Homo sapiens: one gene and its partner. The protein of the gene in region 1 purifies or fractionates together with the protein of each later gene. This does not show direct contact. Each region holds a gene or a part of one and is shown on either strand. Other genes may lie near its edges.

What was found. The genes of interacting proteins can lie anywhere in the genome.
Region 2: the proteins of SCGB1D1 (region 1) and PLXNA1 purify together in Homo sapiens (co-immunoprecipitation; 3 studies listed by BioGRID and IntAct, with this or other methods). This does not show direct contact.

What each region holds. Positions count from the first base shown.
Region 1 is NC_000011.10:62,185,820-62,193,306, reverse strand, and holds the start of SCGB1D1 (secretoglobin family 1D member 1 precursor), read right to left. Parts: upstream 3,092-7,487; 5' UTR 3,023-3,091; coding exon 2,968-3,022; intron 1,252-2,967; coding exon 1,064-1,251; intron 1-1,063. UniProt on the Homo sapiens protein: May bind androgens and other steroids, may also bind estramustine, a chemotherapeutic agent used for prostate cancer. May be under transcriptional regulation of steroid hormones.
Region 2 is NC_000003.12:126,978,510-126,986,121, reverse strand, and holds the start of PLXNA1 (plexin-A1 precursor), read right to left. Parts: upstream 3,008-7,612; 5' UTR 2,835-3,007; intron 1-2,834. UniProt on the Homo sapiens protein: Coreceptor for SEMA3A, SEMA3C, SEMA3F and SEMA6D. Necessary for signaling by class 3 semaphorins and subsequent remodeling of the cytoskeleton. Plays a role in axon guidance, invasive growth and cell migration.

The sequences.
Region 1 (7,487 bases):
TCCCAAAGACAATTGAAGGGTAGAGGCAGGAACCCAGTGTGTGTGGGAAACCAGGGCCTAGACCTAGACCAGCCTTTCCTTGCCAGGCCAATAGCCCTGGGGGGACACAAGCATAAGGCCCAGGGTCCTCATAGAGGGGGGACAGAGCAGAGCAGCAAGAGGTTATTGTCTGGGCTGTCCCAGGACTTGGAGTCTCCTGTTCCCCGCAATGAAAGACCCAGTGCTGAGAGGTTGGTCAGGGCTGGGAGGGCCTCTGGGAAGCTTGGCTTCCAGGAGACTCCAGCCTCCCCATGTGGGAATTCTGCCTCAGGGCCTGAGCACCTCAATCCTGAGCCTGCAGCTTCCATGAGCATTTGCAGCTAAACCTCAGGACAGCAACCCAGAGGCAGCCAGGCTGAGAGGCCCCTGGAAAACCTCTGATTTCTTGAGAAAGACAGAGTGAGAACATCCCGCTTCCATGGCACTGCAGGAGGTAGAGTAGCGAGGGTCTTGGCCCACTGGCCGTGGTCAGGAGAGCATCGTGGGTGAGGAGGGGAGCGTGGAGTCTGAGGAGCTGGGAGGGGCTCCTTCCTGGTTCTGCAGAAGCTGCAGAGAAGTCCAGCCCTCCAGCGCAGCATCTGCAGGAGCCCCTGCTCTAGGTCCCTCCCTGCCTTCTTCTCCCTGTTCAAGGCTCCCACACTCCCCAGTACATTCCACAGTGACTGTGTGAGGTCCACTTGGCCTCAGGAAAGTCCCCAGGTGGAGAGACAGTTGTGCTTGGCCCTTCACCACCCCTGCCTGGACCCAGGCTCACTCCCCATGTCCTCAGCACACTCTGGGGACACGGCATCCAGGTAGGTGACCTGAGAAGGAGGAACATGCAGGAGGCTGTGTGCAGCTGAGTTGAATTCTGCAGGTGAAATGGTAGCACCCACCCTGTGGTCCCAGGTGACCTTCTCAAGCGGTGACCAGTAAGGCAGGTGCCCCACCACCTGTGTCCCTCACAGAGCAGCAAGCAAGCTGACCTCACTTCACACTGTGCCGCTGACCAGAAGCCTGGACACATGAAAGAGACAGAAATTACCAATGTTTTTGTAATTAGCACTCTTTTCTCATAGGCCATCGTATCCACGCATTTCTTCACTTCCATCTTGGCTGCAACAGCTTCCAGAGGTGCCTTAAATTTGGCAAGTTGGAACTTGAACACAGGTTTTCCAGCTAATAAGAAGCCTGTGATTTCAGAACCAAGAGCTTGGCAGACCACTGCATTTGCTGGAGCAAAAGAATAAAAATATAATTTGTGTAAGGAAATCAGTGTTTCTCCCATGCCTCCCTGATGTCAGACCAGACAGGAACCCCAGGGTTTTAGGCTTCTATTCAATAACTATGCCAATGACAATGTCAGACCCAGGAGGTTGTGACTTCCTTGAGGTCACACAGCAAAGGGTAGAGCTAGAACTGGAGAACCAACTTCCTGATCACTCATTCAGTCTTTGTTTTTTTTTTAAAGCACACTCATTACTTTCCAAAGCTTCTCTGGATGGATGGCCAACGTTCTCTTTTCTAGATTTGAAAATAATCACTTTTCTATGCCAGTTAAGTGACACTTTATTAGTCTTGGACATTGGTGAAGAGGAGGCTTTGAGTAATCAAATTTTGAAGTGGAATGGTAGAGTCAGAATCCTATCAGAAATTAGAGAAATGAGTAAATCTGGAACAGAAGAAGTTAAAATTATTGAAATGTTGAAGGTGATGTTTTGAGAACAAGTTGTAGAATTTAGGCTTATGTGATTCAATACAGACAGAGCTAAAAGGTAAACAAATTAAAACAAAATAAAATAATGTGAATCAGTTTTAACACACATTAGAAGCTTATACAGGAAATTGTACTTGGCCCATATTCTGCAGCAGCATCTAGAATATTTGGAGAGGATGAGAGGAGGGAACTGAGGCTCATTCCTGCTCCCACTGGGAATTTTGGAAAGACCTGGAGTAATCATTTTGCTTGGTCTGGAATCTCCATTCACCTAAGTCTTTTGCAAACACCATGCATCCAGAAAGCGCCCCACCATGCTCAACATGACCCCTGACTACCCGACTTCAAACTGTGGGGAGAATTTGGAGAGGGTAGGATCGGGGTGTCACAGGGAAACAGGGAGAGGTTCAGAAAAGAAGAGGAAAGAGAAAAATCAGAGTCTGGATCGGTCCTGACAGGGGAAAGGAAAGTACCCAAATGAACTGGGGAAAAATCAGCCAGAATTAATTTTAGAAAAATAGAAGTTCTGAGGCTAACCATTGTAGTATTTCTACCACCATTACGGTAGGACCCCTAGAAGATATATTGAGTGCTGCTTATTCTAAGAATTCATTTGCAGGCTTCTTATTGAGAGAATCAGAAAGCACCATCTCTTCTTGGACTGAGAGTTCTCCAAGGATCCTTCGAGATGTAACATTTTATGAGTCTGAATTTACAATGTAAGAAGCTGTGAGCTCAATTGGCACCTAAAGGTCTGGGGACGAGAATGTCTGACAGTACAGTGATTGGCTTCACATCCACAGCTAGACCCTTGGCACAATAATCCCACTCCATTCCCATTGCCACTCCCGGAAGAAGCTCTAAGCACCAGAGATAGGAGGAGGCGCGGGGAGGGTGAGCATCTTGCCCACGGTGAAAGGGCTGAGAAGTGGCTGAGCCCAGAGTCACCCCAGACCTCACATTACATCATCTGACACAGATCCCATCCAAGAGTGAAGCTCAGGCAGAATTCCTAACGTTCGCCTGCATTGATTTTCTGCAAAACTTCCTAGGTACTGGGGATTTGATGAAATGAGGCCCGAGCTTTATGAGCAGTTCCTTCAACAAGCACAGGATAAGGTTTGGAATTTTGGTTTGTTCCAGACCCCAACCTTAACCTTAATAGGTGACCTCGTGCTCAGAGAAGGGTGTGTCCCAAGGGCTGGTGCTGGACTCATGACTGATGTACTCACCCCGGTAGCAGCAAAGGGCCAGCGTGAGCAGCAGGAGACACACCGACAGCCTCATGGTGGCTTATTCTGCTGTGAGCTCGGCTTTAACCAATGATGAGTGATTTAGACTCAGCCCCGGGAGCCTGTGGAGCCGTGGAGCCCAGGGCTATTTGTACCTAGGGAGCCTGGCTGGTCCTGCCCACATGGGCATCTGGCAGGTGATGAGGCCTGGCTTCCAGCCCTCCCTTCCTAGCCAGGGCTGCTGCCATCCATCAGTGTCACATCCCCACACCTCCCTGCATCCTGAGTGGGGCGGAGCACGGGAGGGCAGCCCTGCAGAAACTCTGCTCTGTGCTCCAGGTGAGTGTCCAGGTGCCTCTGGCAATGTTCCCTGGAACCTCAGTTTGCTTTTGGGCTTTTGAGGATTATCTCTCTGTTCTTTATGTCAGTGCAAGGGCAAATGTGAGTTCTCATTTCAGGAGGACAGAAACCGGGGGTGCAGGAAGCTAGGGGCTGTGGTTTGGTTATAGGAGAGCAGGCACAGAAGAGACCCCACTTTGACCTCCACTGCATGTCTGACAATCAGCCACACGTGTTTCAGCTGCACATAGATCAAGTCTGAACCAGACCTATCCTCCCACTCAGCCCCTTCCATCCCCACCATCTTCACCACATAGGTACCTAAAACATAGCTGCATACACCCCACCTTTGGAGGATTTCCTTGGGGAAAACAACCACTCCCCCTGTCCTCTACTCTGTCTCACTCCAAGATCTGTGTCTTTATTTATGGGTGGAGTTGTCAACATAGCACAGGTTCAAATTTTCTGTCTACTAAAAGCAAGCCTCCAGTGACCTCTAGCCACCCATATCTCCTCATAGGGCTGATGGGATGATTAAATTGCCCAACTTTTTTTACCCAAGGAGCTGCTGGGGTGTCTGGAGGCAAACAGGCATCAGAAATACTGGTCTTCGCTTCTAGGCAGGGACGATAATGGAAAGGAAGAGATGGATGAACAGGGTGGGTGGTCACTTCCCTCTAACCTCTGGGCTCAAGTTTTCCACTTCTAACCCAGCTCTGCTGCCTGGGTCATCTCATTGTTGATGGAAAGCGAAGGCCATCCCCAGCAAAAGCAATAGACACCCTTCTGCCCTTCCACTGCAGTGCCATCATTTGGTGAGTAGGAAATCACCAGAAATTTGGCTCTTAAGTGAACACACATTTGAGAACAGTCACAGCCCAGGCCAGAGCTTTCCATTCTCTGCTCTGCAATCAAATCACTTGGGGCTCTTAAACTATACTGACTCCCCGCAGGCTGCTTCCCTTTCTGGGGATTTTGATTCAGTAGTTCTAGGGCGAGGTCCTCTTCTGTTTAAACTGCTCTGGTGGGTCTGATGGGCAGCAGTACTGAGAACCACCCAGAAAGACCTTTATGAAGGAAGCGGACCTTATGGTCTGTGTCATCAGAGACACCTTGGCAGGTCTGGCTGAGTCCCAGCTGAGGGCGACAATGCCTCTCACTTCCATCACCCAAAATGGTGGGGAAGCCCCTGATGCCACCTCTGCCTCCAACCCTAAGGAGTGGAAGGTCCAGTGGCAAAGCCCATGGCTAGGAGGGTTCAGATCCATGTCTATGGGCTATTGAACCCTCTGAAAATTAGTTTATGTAAACACAGTTTTCTCGTTTGTAAAAGTAGGTTAAAAATGGTGCCTACATCATTGGGTTGATAGATGTTCAAATGAGTGTGTGTGTGTGTGTGTGTGTGTAAAATTTACCAGGTCTGGCCAGGCGCAGTGGCTCACACTTATAATCCCAGCACTTTGGGAGGCCGAGGCGGGTGGATCACCTGAGGTCAGGAGGTTGAGACCAGTCTGGCCAACATGGTGAAACCCCGTCTCTACTAAAAATACAAAAAATTAGCTGGGTGTGGTGGCATGTGCCTATAGTCCCAGCTACTCAGGAGACTGAGGCAGGAGAATCTCTTGAACAAGGGAGGCAGAGTTGTGGTGAGCTGAGATGGCACCACTGCACTCCAGCCTGGGCAACAAGAGCAAAACTCCATCTCAAAAAAGAAAAAAAAATTAACAAGGTCTGACATGTAGTAAACGCTCAATAAATGTTGACTACTATTACCTTGTCCCACCTGTCATACATTTCATGGATCATTACCAGTTCCTAGTTTAAAGCACAGCCAACCCCTCAAAAAAAAAAATCACTGATTTTCAGAACTACAATTCATGGGCCACATAAGGACATATTAGTTAATATCAGACCCCACATACAACAGGGGTCCCCTAAAATTATAATACTGTGTTTTTACTGCACCTTTTCTGTTTTGATATGTTTAGATACACAAATACTTGTCATTGTATTACAACTGCCTACAGTGTTCAGAACAGTAATATGCTGTACAGGTTTGTGGTCCAGGAGCAACAGGCTTACCTATTAATAGCTGAGGTGTGCAGTAGGCTATGCCATCTAGGTTTGTATAACTGCATTTTATGATGTTCACACAATGACAATTGCCTATGCATTTCTCAGAATGTGTCCCAGTCACTAAGTGACACACAACTGTCTAAGGAAACCTGGATACACCCCCACTATCTGAAATAAATGGAGGAAACCCAGCTCATGGTCTCTGAGACTGCAGACCCAGGGACACGAATTTAGGTTCTTACAGATGACAGATGGGTGAGGAATTTTCCATAGCTGTTGAACAGAGCTTTCCTGATGTGGGCTTGGCCTTCATCTGTATATTCCATTAGGAAGGATGTGTATATCTGAAAGAGGATTGCTTCCCACATATTTTTATCATTCCTGTAGCTCTTAACATCTGCTCGGGGCTTTTTCTAGTTTTCATAGGTGGTACTTTTGATGACTGCTCTACTCCTTCCCTGGTTGGCTTAAGATCTTCTCATTTTGGCCGGGCATGGTGGCTCACACCTGTAATCCCAGCGCTTTGGGAGGCCAAGGCAGGTGGATCATTTGAGGCCAGGAGTTCGAGACCAGCCTGGGCAACATACAAGACCTTGTCTCTATAAACAATTTTAAAAATTAGCCAGGCATGGTGGTGGGTGCCTGTATTCACAGCCACTAAAGAGGTTGAGGTGGGAGGATTGCATGAGCCCAGGAGTTTCAGGCTACAGTGAGCCCTGATTATGCCACTGCACTCCAGCCTGGGCAACAGAGCAAGAATTTGTCTCTAAAAACATGAAATAAAATAAAATAAACGTTTTTAATGCAAAAAAAAGTATGTGAAGTGATGGATTTGTTAATTAATTTGATTGTATTTGATGTGTGTATTGTAAACATACATCAAAACATTATATTGTATGCCATAAAAATATACAAGTTTAGGTCAGGCTCAGTGGCTCGTGCCTATAATCACAGCACTTTGGGAGACTGAGGTGGGCAGATTACCTGAGGTCAGGAGTTTGAGACCAGCCTGACCAACATAGCAAAACCTTGTCTCTACTAAAAATACAAAAATTAACTAGGTTTGGTGCTGGGTGTCTGTAATCCCAGCTGCTTGGGAGGCTGAGGCAAGAGAATGGCTTGAACCTGGGAGGCGGAGGTTGCAGTGAGCCAAGATCATACCACTGCACTCCAGCCTGGATGACAGAATGAGACTCTGTCTCAAAAAAAAAATTAAAGAAAAATATATATATACAATTATTATTTGTCTATTTAAATTAAAAAAATTGTATGGAGAGAAACATGATGTTAACAATATTCTCTTCAAACAAAGGGCAAAATTCATATAAAAGATAAATCCATGAACATAAATTGGTCATTATTTATAGATAGTTATTCAACTATCAGGGAAATTTAAGACAATCCACTAGAAAAACTGTCAATATTGATTTGCCACCACAGCTGCCAGCATGCATTCACATGAGCACAGATCCTGCTGCCACTGCTCTGATGAAGTGCTTTGGCAGGGTGTTGTTGCCAGCAGACTGGGAACACCTCCACCTCACCAGCACAGCGGGTGCTTAACCTCAAGGGGCCGGAGAACAAAGCAATGGGCCTGGTACCAGGCCTCCAGGGTTAGAGCAAGCAGCCCAGGAGTGCTGAACTGAACTGAACCTTGGCCTTCTGAAATCTTCCAGAAACAAAGCCCAGTCAACTGAACCCAACTGATACCACAGTCAAACCCTCAAGGGCATCAAAGAATGCAAAAGAAAAAAACCGGGCCGGGTGCAGTGGCTCACACCTGTAATCCCAGCATTTTCGGAGGCCGAGGCAGGCGGATCATGAGGTCAAGAGATCAAGACCATCCTGGCTAACATGGTGAAACTTCGTCTCTAATAAAAATACAAAAATTAGCTGGGCGCGGTGGTGCATGCCTGTAGTCCCAGTTACTTTGGAGGCTGAGGCCCATCCAAGGGACAGCAACTTCAAAGATTAAAAGAACATCAGTCCACTCAGATGAGAAAGAATCAGCACAAAAACTCTGGCAACTCAAAAAGCCAGAGTGTCGTCTTACCTCCAAATGACCACACTAGTTCCCCAGCAATGGTTCTTAATCAGCTCTGTGG
Region 2 (7,612 bases), on another chromosome or scaffold:
GGGATAATTATACACGTCTTAATGCAATTATGGGCCCTACTTTTTGTATTCAACAGGAGGGACCAGGCTAAGAAGCCACCATCCAAACTCCAGCCTGGTCTTGGGCCCACCGCCCCAAACTCCACCCTCACCCCACTGCCCCAACAAAGTCTGCTGGGAAGGGACTTGCCTGGGGTCACAGGGTTGCCGGCCAAGAAAGGGGGAGCCCCGAGCCTAGGGCTGGGTCCCTCATGCCCAGCATCTAATAAAGGCCAGTGACAATGCTTGGGCCACTTCTTCCACCTTAGGGGTATAAGACTTGGGGCTCAGACTCAAGGTCACCCAACTAGTCCCAGCAGGGCAGGGCCCAAATTTCGAGCTTCCAGAGACTGGACCAGCCAGCCAGCCTGCAGGGCTCAACTCTCATAGGCTTGGGTCTGCCTAGGAAAAAATGCATTCATTCCAAAGCTGGGCCCAGGTGCCAGGGTGCCAGGGGCCCATGCCGGGGCTAGGAGGGGAGCATGGGCAGATGCTGCACTCTACCGAGGAGCAGAGCTGGCCACTGTGGCCGGGGAAAGGCCTCAAGAGAGGACCAGGTAGCCTGGGAGCTGGTGCAGGAGGGTGGGCATTCGTGGTGGGGGTGGGGGGCAGAACAGGAGGAGCAAAGGCCTGGGGTGGGAAACACTGGCTGTGCAGAGGGCAGTAGGAACGGCTGTGGCTCTCCGGCATGGCCAGAGCTGTTCTAGGCTGAGGCAGAGCCAGAGCCAGGGCAGGGGAGGCTAGACTGGCCTTGGGATGCCGATGGGGCTAGCCAGGGAGAGAGAGGCGGAGAGAGACCCCGCGGTCTGCGTGCAGGAGCCCCAGCCCAGGGGCTCCTCTCCTGGACAGGAGGGGATCGCCGCCTGGTGGAACGCCAAGCCAACAGTGTCCCCTTCCCTTTCCTGGCCTGAGTGACACCAAAGCTCCTTCTCACCCTGAGAAACAAAGGCCCCCAAAGCCCTCCCCACAAGGAAGAGTCCAATCCCCCCAAGTCCTCCTGCGCCAGATCCTGCTATGGCTCAGGCAGGTTGGGGTGTGGGGCTGCCATCCTGCCCAGTGGCTCACAACAGCAGCCGGGGGGGAAGACAGCTGCTCCTGGCACTCCGCCTCCCCCACAACGGGGGTCATGGGAGGTGGTCCCAGTGGTTCTGCTCCCGACCAGTCCTAGGGGATCCGGCTCTGAAGGCCTTGGAGTCCTGCTCCTGAGAAAAAGTGCCTACCTTTGCAGGCCTTCCCCTGGGGCACCCGCTCCTCCCGGCCAGCTGCTCTAAGCTGCTCTGTGCACGGGGGCTTTCCTGGGGGCTCAAAACAGGCAGGCAACGACCTTGGGGGGCCAGGAGTCCAGCAAAGGGCTGTCTGCTTTGTCCACAGGCACCTCATGTGTCCCCCACCCCCAGAGCACACACTGAGGCCACAAACCCAGGCCTCCGCCCATGCTGTCCTCTGCCCAAAACGCCCTTCCTGGGCCCCACTGGCACCCCCCAGGAATGGAAGCCTGGCCCTGCAGCGAATCACTGGTTCACATGCCTGCCTCTGGCAGGGGGCTGGGTGCTCCTCAAGGGCCGGGCAGCATCTTGGTGCCCCTGGTGCAGCACCTGGCCTCTGCCGCACACCCCAAGCCGCAGGAAATCGAGGGGACCTGAGGCAAGCTCCTCAAGGGCCCGGGGAGCAGAAACTGCGCCCCATCCCTGCACCGACCCCCAAACCGGCTACGTGTGAAAGGAGATGGGGCAGCACGGAGCAGCCTGAGCCACAGGAGCCGCGCTGAGGGGACAGAGGCTCGACCACGTCCCCTCCCCGGCACACACACCCCTTTCTTTCAAGGGGCGTGGCCCCAGAACCCCACACAGGAGCCTGGGGCAGATCGCCGCCCGGGGCCGCCCCTCGGAGCCCCTCCCCTCCTTTCCAGGGCTGCACCTGGGACCTCACGCCGACCGAGGGGCCTCCCTGGAGTCCCCACTCCCCCTTCCCCTGGCAGCCCGGGATCGGCCCGCTGCCTCCAGCTTCGCCGCACATCAGGCCCGGGACTATCCAGGAAGCAATCGGAAGCCTCCGGGAGAAGCGGCTGACCCTGGAGAGGCCCCGAGAGGGGGAGGCCAAGGAGGCCCGAGCGGGGCGGCCTCCTGGGCGGCACCCAGAGCCCACCTCCCCGCACTCCGGGCCAGTGGGAGCGGTGGCAGCTGTGGTCGGGAAGCCGCTCCAACTTCCACCCCGCGCCCCAGGGCCGGCCGGGGGCTTAGCCTGCACGACCTCCTCCGGCCCCCGCGGCCCTGCTGGGAGGCTCCGATCCCTATCCGGGCCTGGCCACCCCGTCCTCGCCCGCGGCCAGAGGTCTGAGCCGAGGTCCAGCGGCCGGGACGGGCCTGGACACCGCAGGGGCCTCCCCGCGGGGCCGCCGCAAACTTTCTCCCCAGCCTCCGTGGAGGGGCAGCGCCCGCCCCCCGCCACCCCGGAGCTGCCGCGGGGCTCGGCGGGCCCGGCCGGGGGGCGGGGGAGGCCGCGGCGCTGGATCCCGGGCCGCGGTCCCAGCCCCGCCGCACGGGGGTGCGGTCTCTCCGCGTCGGCGCCGCGACCGCGCCCGGACACACGCGGACGCCTGGGCCGGAGCCGCAGGGACACGCGGGCCGCGGACACGCGCGCCGCAGTCCCCACGCGCGCCGCAGTCCCCGCGCACACCCCCTGCCTGCCGCCTCACGAGAGGGCCGCCGCCGGAGGCCGCCCCGCGCCCACCCACGGGCCGCCCGGCCCCGGACCCCAGCCCGGCCCGGCCCCCGCCCACCGTCCCGCGCCGCGGGGAAAGTTGCGCCCCGACTCACCCGCCGCCCCGGGGCGCGCCCCGCCGCCGGCCATCGCCGCGCCCAGCCGCCCGCGCCGCCGCCGCCGTCCGCCCCGCCGCGGGGCCGCCGAAGCCGCGTAGGCCGCCCAGGCCGAGGCCGCCGCCGCGCCCGGGCTCCGCTGCGTGGCCGCGCAGCCGATGCCCAGCATGAATGGGGCGCCGAGCGCCGCGCGGCTGCGGACCGGCCTCGCTCTCGCCGCCCGCGGAGCCCCGCGCCGCGCGCATGCGCCGCCCAGAGCCCGGGGGCGGGGCGGGGGCGGGGCCGGCGGCGGCCTCCAGAGGGCGCTCTGCCCCGCGCCGCGCGCCTGCAGGGGCCCACCGCGCGTCTTCAAAGGGCGATACGGCTGCCCGCCTCAACTCTCTGGGCGCCGGGGCCGCGCGGGCAGTTCCGGGAGCCCCCCGCTCTCGAGCGGGCTAGCCCGCGACCCCAGGAACAGGGCCTGGCTCAGTGTGCCCAGGCTAGGAGCATGGCCTCCTTTCACGGGGGGGGAAACTGAGGCTGAAGGAGGCAATCGCAGTTCCCAGACCTTGCGGGGCCGGGTGTTCCCAGCTCTCGGCCTCGCGCGTTCCGCTCTGTCAGATGGGCGGGCACCTGCGCGGGGAGCCCGGGCGCCCCCTGCAGGCCCCAGGCTGGTGGCGCATTCCCGGCTGGGGACGCAGCCCAGGGAGGAAAGTCCCGCGGCAGAGGCGTGGCGAGACGCGAACTCCGGCTGTAGCGTGGGGCAGCGGATCTACACGGTGTGAGGTGTGGGGCTGCAGAATCCAGGGTGACGGGCCAGAGCTGTCCAGGCAATACCCCCAGCCTGCATGGCAAGGCTGAGGGGCAGACACCCAGCACTCAGTTACTGTACTCACAACCGCCACTCCCAGGCAGGAGGCATCCGGGAGGGCCTCCCGGTGGACGCAACCAGGCCAAGGAAGGGGAAGCCGGCAACAGGAGCATCGATAACAGAGCAGATGGGCCAGGAAAACCCCGTCGTGGGAGGGCTGAGTCCCGGCTGGGGACTTGGCCCCCATCTGTAGCCTGAGGGGTGCGGTTTTTGCTGTGTGAATCACGTCACCCCTACAGAAGAGGAACTCTCTACAGTTCACATGGTTAACAGGGAAAGGGAATGGACTCATACCGGGCCCAGGTGTCCCTCCGCGTCTCACCCCGCTCCTCCCTCCCCAGGAGCAGCCACAACCCTCATTTTTGTGTTCATCTTTAAGTGCTTTTCTTTGGGTGTGACCTCTTATATTTGCACCCCAGAATGGGACGCTGTTTTGGGTGGCTTGTTCTGGGCATTACAGAAACGGGGTCACTCAGCCTGTGCTGTTTGCTCTGTCTGCTCTGTGTGGTGAGGGCACAGGGCAGCTGCTCGCAGGCATCGTCTTCGCAGCCTGTTTTGTTGGGCTCCTGCTCGCCCATTCTCCTGCCGATGGACATGGGATTGTCGCCTATCTGGAGCCATGATGAGCAAAGCTGTGATGAGCATCCTGTGTGTGCCTCTCGGTGGGCACCTTTAGATCCAGGGACGGTCTGCAGGGTCACGGGGTAGGATTTGTCTAGCTTCAGGAGATACAGCAAAACCGTCTTCCCAAGTGACAGCCCCAGTTTACACTCCCAGCAGCTTAGCAGGAGTGTGGAAGGGTCTGGCTGTCCCACATCCTCACCAATATTTGGCACTCTTTAGTTTTGCAAATCTAGTGGCATGAACTGGTTTTTCAACTAGGTGGTTTTGCTTGTCTGCTTTTTTTTTTTAGAGACAGACAGGGTCTCGCTCTGTCACCCAAGCTGGGATGTTGTGGTGCAATCAGAGCTCACTGTAACCTCAAGCTCCTAGGCTCAAACCATCCTCCTGCCTCAGCCTCCTGAGTAGCTGGGACTACAGATGGGCACCACCATGCCTGGCTAATTTTTTTTTTTCAAGAGATGAGGTCTCTATGTTACCCAAGCTGGTCTCAAACTCCTGGGTTCAAGTGATGCTCCCACCACAGCCTCTCAAAGTGTTGTGATTAAAGGCATGAGACACGGCACCCAGCCTCATTGAGTCTTACTGTGTCGCCCAGGCTGGAGTGCAGTGGCTCGATCTCAGCTCACTGCAACCTCCACCTCCTGGGTTCCAGTGATCCTCCCACCTCAGCTTCCCGAGTAGCTGGCATTACAGGCGTGTGCCACCATGCCCAGCTAATTTTTGTTTTGCCATGTTGGCAAGGCCGGTCTCAAACTCCTGACCTCAAGTGATCTGCCCGCCTCGGCCTCCCAAAGTGCTGGGATTACAGGTGTGAGCCACCATGCCCAGCCTCATTGTGGTTTTAACTTACATGTCCCTGAATGAGGCAGAACATCTTCCTCAAAAGTTATATTTATTATTTTATTTCCCAAGCACTAATACAGTGCTGGCTCTGCTACCTTCTACAGATGGGTGGGCTGAGGCTGGAGACGTGCTCAAGTTCCCCAGTGGATAGGAGGCCGGGCTGGGAGGCTAATCCCAGGAGTCTGGCTTCTCCAGTCTGTGGTCTTGACCCAGCCACTGGGCTGTACTTCCCCTCCCTTCCCTGGCAAACAAGACTGGAGCGCTTTCTTTCCTCACGGACTACCGAGGCACACGTGTGGGCGCAAATCCATCCTCATGGCTGGTGAAGGCAGAGCAAGTCCTGACTGCTCTCCGAGCCTCGATTTCCTCATCTGTGAAATGGACGTGAGAGCTTGCAGAGCTGTGGTGAGGGACACAGTGAGTGTGGACACCATGGCTGACCTCGGGGAATGTTCACCAGCTCTTGTCTGCGCCACCTGTCACCAGCACCAGGGGCTGTCCCTGCTGTCTGCCTGTTCCCGCCCTTTTGCCCCAAGGCAGACACTCCTCAAGGAGCTTCCTGCTCTGTACTCACGGTGCCCAGGAGAGCCTAGGCCTCTCCTCTGTGGTAGAGCCCCCTGTCTCCAGCTGCGTCTTGGGAAGGTCCAGGGCCGCTGGAGTCTACGTGTCCAGGACCAAGCTCCTGGTTAACCAGGTGCCTCCCTCATTTTCCCCATCTCTGCGAAACATGCCACATCCCCCAGGTTGCCCTACTGGGAACCTCCATGCTCCCCATGTCCCCTGCATCCCTCAGCCTGGTGGATTCTTCCCAAAAATATATTCCAGAACTTTCCACTTCCCTCCATCCCCACTCTGGGCTCCTCAGGAAGGAGCACCTCCTCTCTGCTCTGCCTGCTGTACTTGGTAACACCTTTCTGTCCAGTCCCCAGACAGCAGCAGCAAAAGCCATCACAGTGAGAATCTGCTCATGTGACCCTCTCATTATGCCCTGGAATTCCTTCTCCCATCATGAGCAACTGTGGATTCCAGGTGGCCTAGGTCTCAGCGCCACACAGAAAATTCTAAGGTTTTTAGGAGACCAGAGAGCAGATTCGCTTCCTGTCCCTGGGCTAGGGGAGGATTTCATAAACAAGATACTAAAAAAATAAAGAAAGGAAAATATGAGTCAATTTGACTACATTAAAATTAGTTACTTTTGCTCATTAAAAGTTATAAATAATGAAATAATGAGACAAGTCAGGATCTAGAAAGAGATGGCTTATAACACATCTAATTGTCAAAGGATGTGTATCCTGAATATATAAAGAACTCCCAAGAGTCAATAAGGAAAAGGCTGTGCCGCCACAGGAAGGTGGGGAGAAGACTGCACAGGCAGTTTGTGGGGACAGAGGCAAGTGCCTCTTGCTATGGATGGGCTGTGTGAGGCAGGCTCTAGAGCCCCTGCGGCTCTTGTCTGGCCCCGGCAGCAGCTGCCCTCTGTTTAGCTCTGAGCTCCTGGTGTGACCACACTGGGTCCTGACACTGCCCTCTGAGGAGGGACTGCAGCACCCCAAATGCAGACAGAGAAGTTGGAGGTGAGCAACCTTGGAGGAGCTGGGGTTGGAGCCGGGGTCTGTGACTTTGGGGCTCCTGACCCCACATCAAATAGAGGGGAAGTGACTCAGCAGGCTGCTGGGCTCTTCCCTCTGGGTTTCCCATGTTGGTTTAGCTTCTGTTTGCCTTCGGCAGCTCAGAGGGCTGGGGAGTTTGTAGAGTAGTGCAGGAGATTCCTAGGAACATGGTTCCATTTCAGGGGGGTCTGGAGAGGAGCTTCTTTTGGTGCTTTCCCATGCTCCTGCCCCTGGGGCAGCTCTGGGGACTGTTCTGCATTTGTACGAGTCAGAGCTTTCTGCAAAAGTATACTTGGGATCTCCTTCCCCTTGAGGCAGCCCCACTGCTACTGGGTGAGGAAGGAGATGGGGAGGATCCAGGCACCCCCAGCTCTGGGGAATGGCCCTCAGATCCCTGGTCACTGGGTTCAAAGCTGGTTGGGGGGGCATCTGGATTCCTGCCTGAGCCCACTTTGGAACTGGCACCACCACTGCCAAATATTCCTAACCCATCCTTGTCTCACTTCCCCTGCTTCTGTCACCTCCTGCCTGGAGGACATGGGGACCCTTAGTTGCCAGCGCAGTCCTCCCAACTCTGCTCTCCACACTGTGGTCCACAGGGATCTAATAGACAGCTGGGGAGACCCCTCTGCTCAGACCCTCTAGTGGCATCTTTTAACACATGAAATGCCTCCACACATGTGCACACATACGCACACACACACTCAAACATACAAACACACACATACACTCATGCAAACACACACACAAGTGCAAACACGCATGCAAGCACACATGCACACACAGGCACACGCATGCATATACTCAAACATGCAAGCACACACACACATGCAAGCACACACACATGCAAG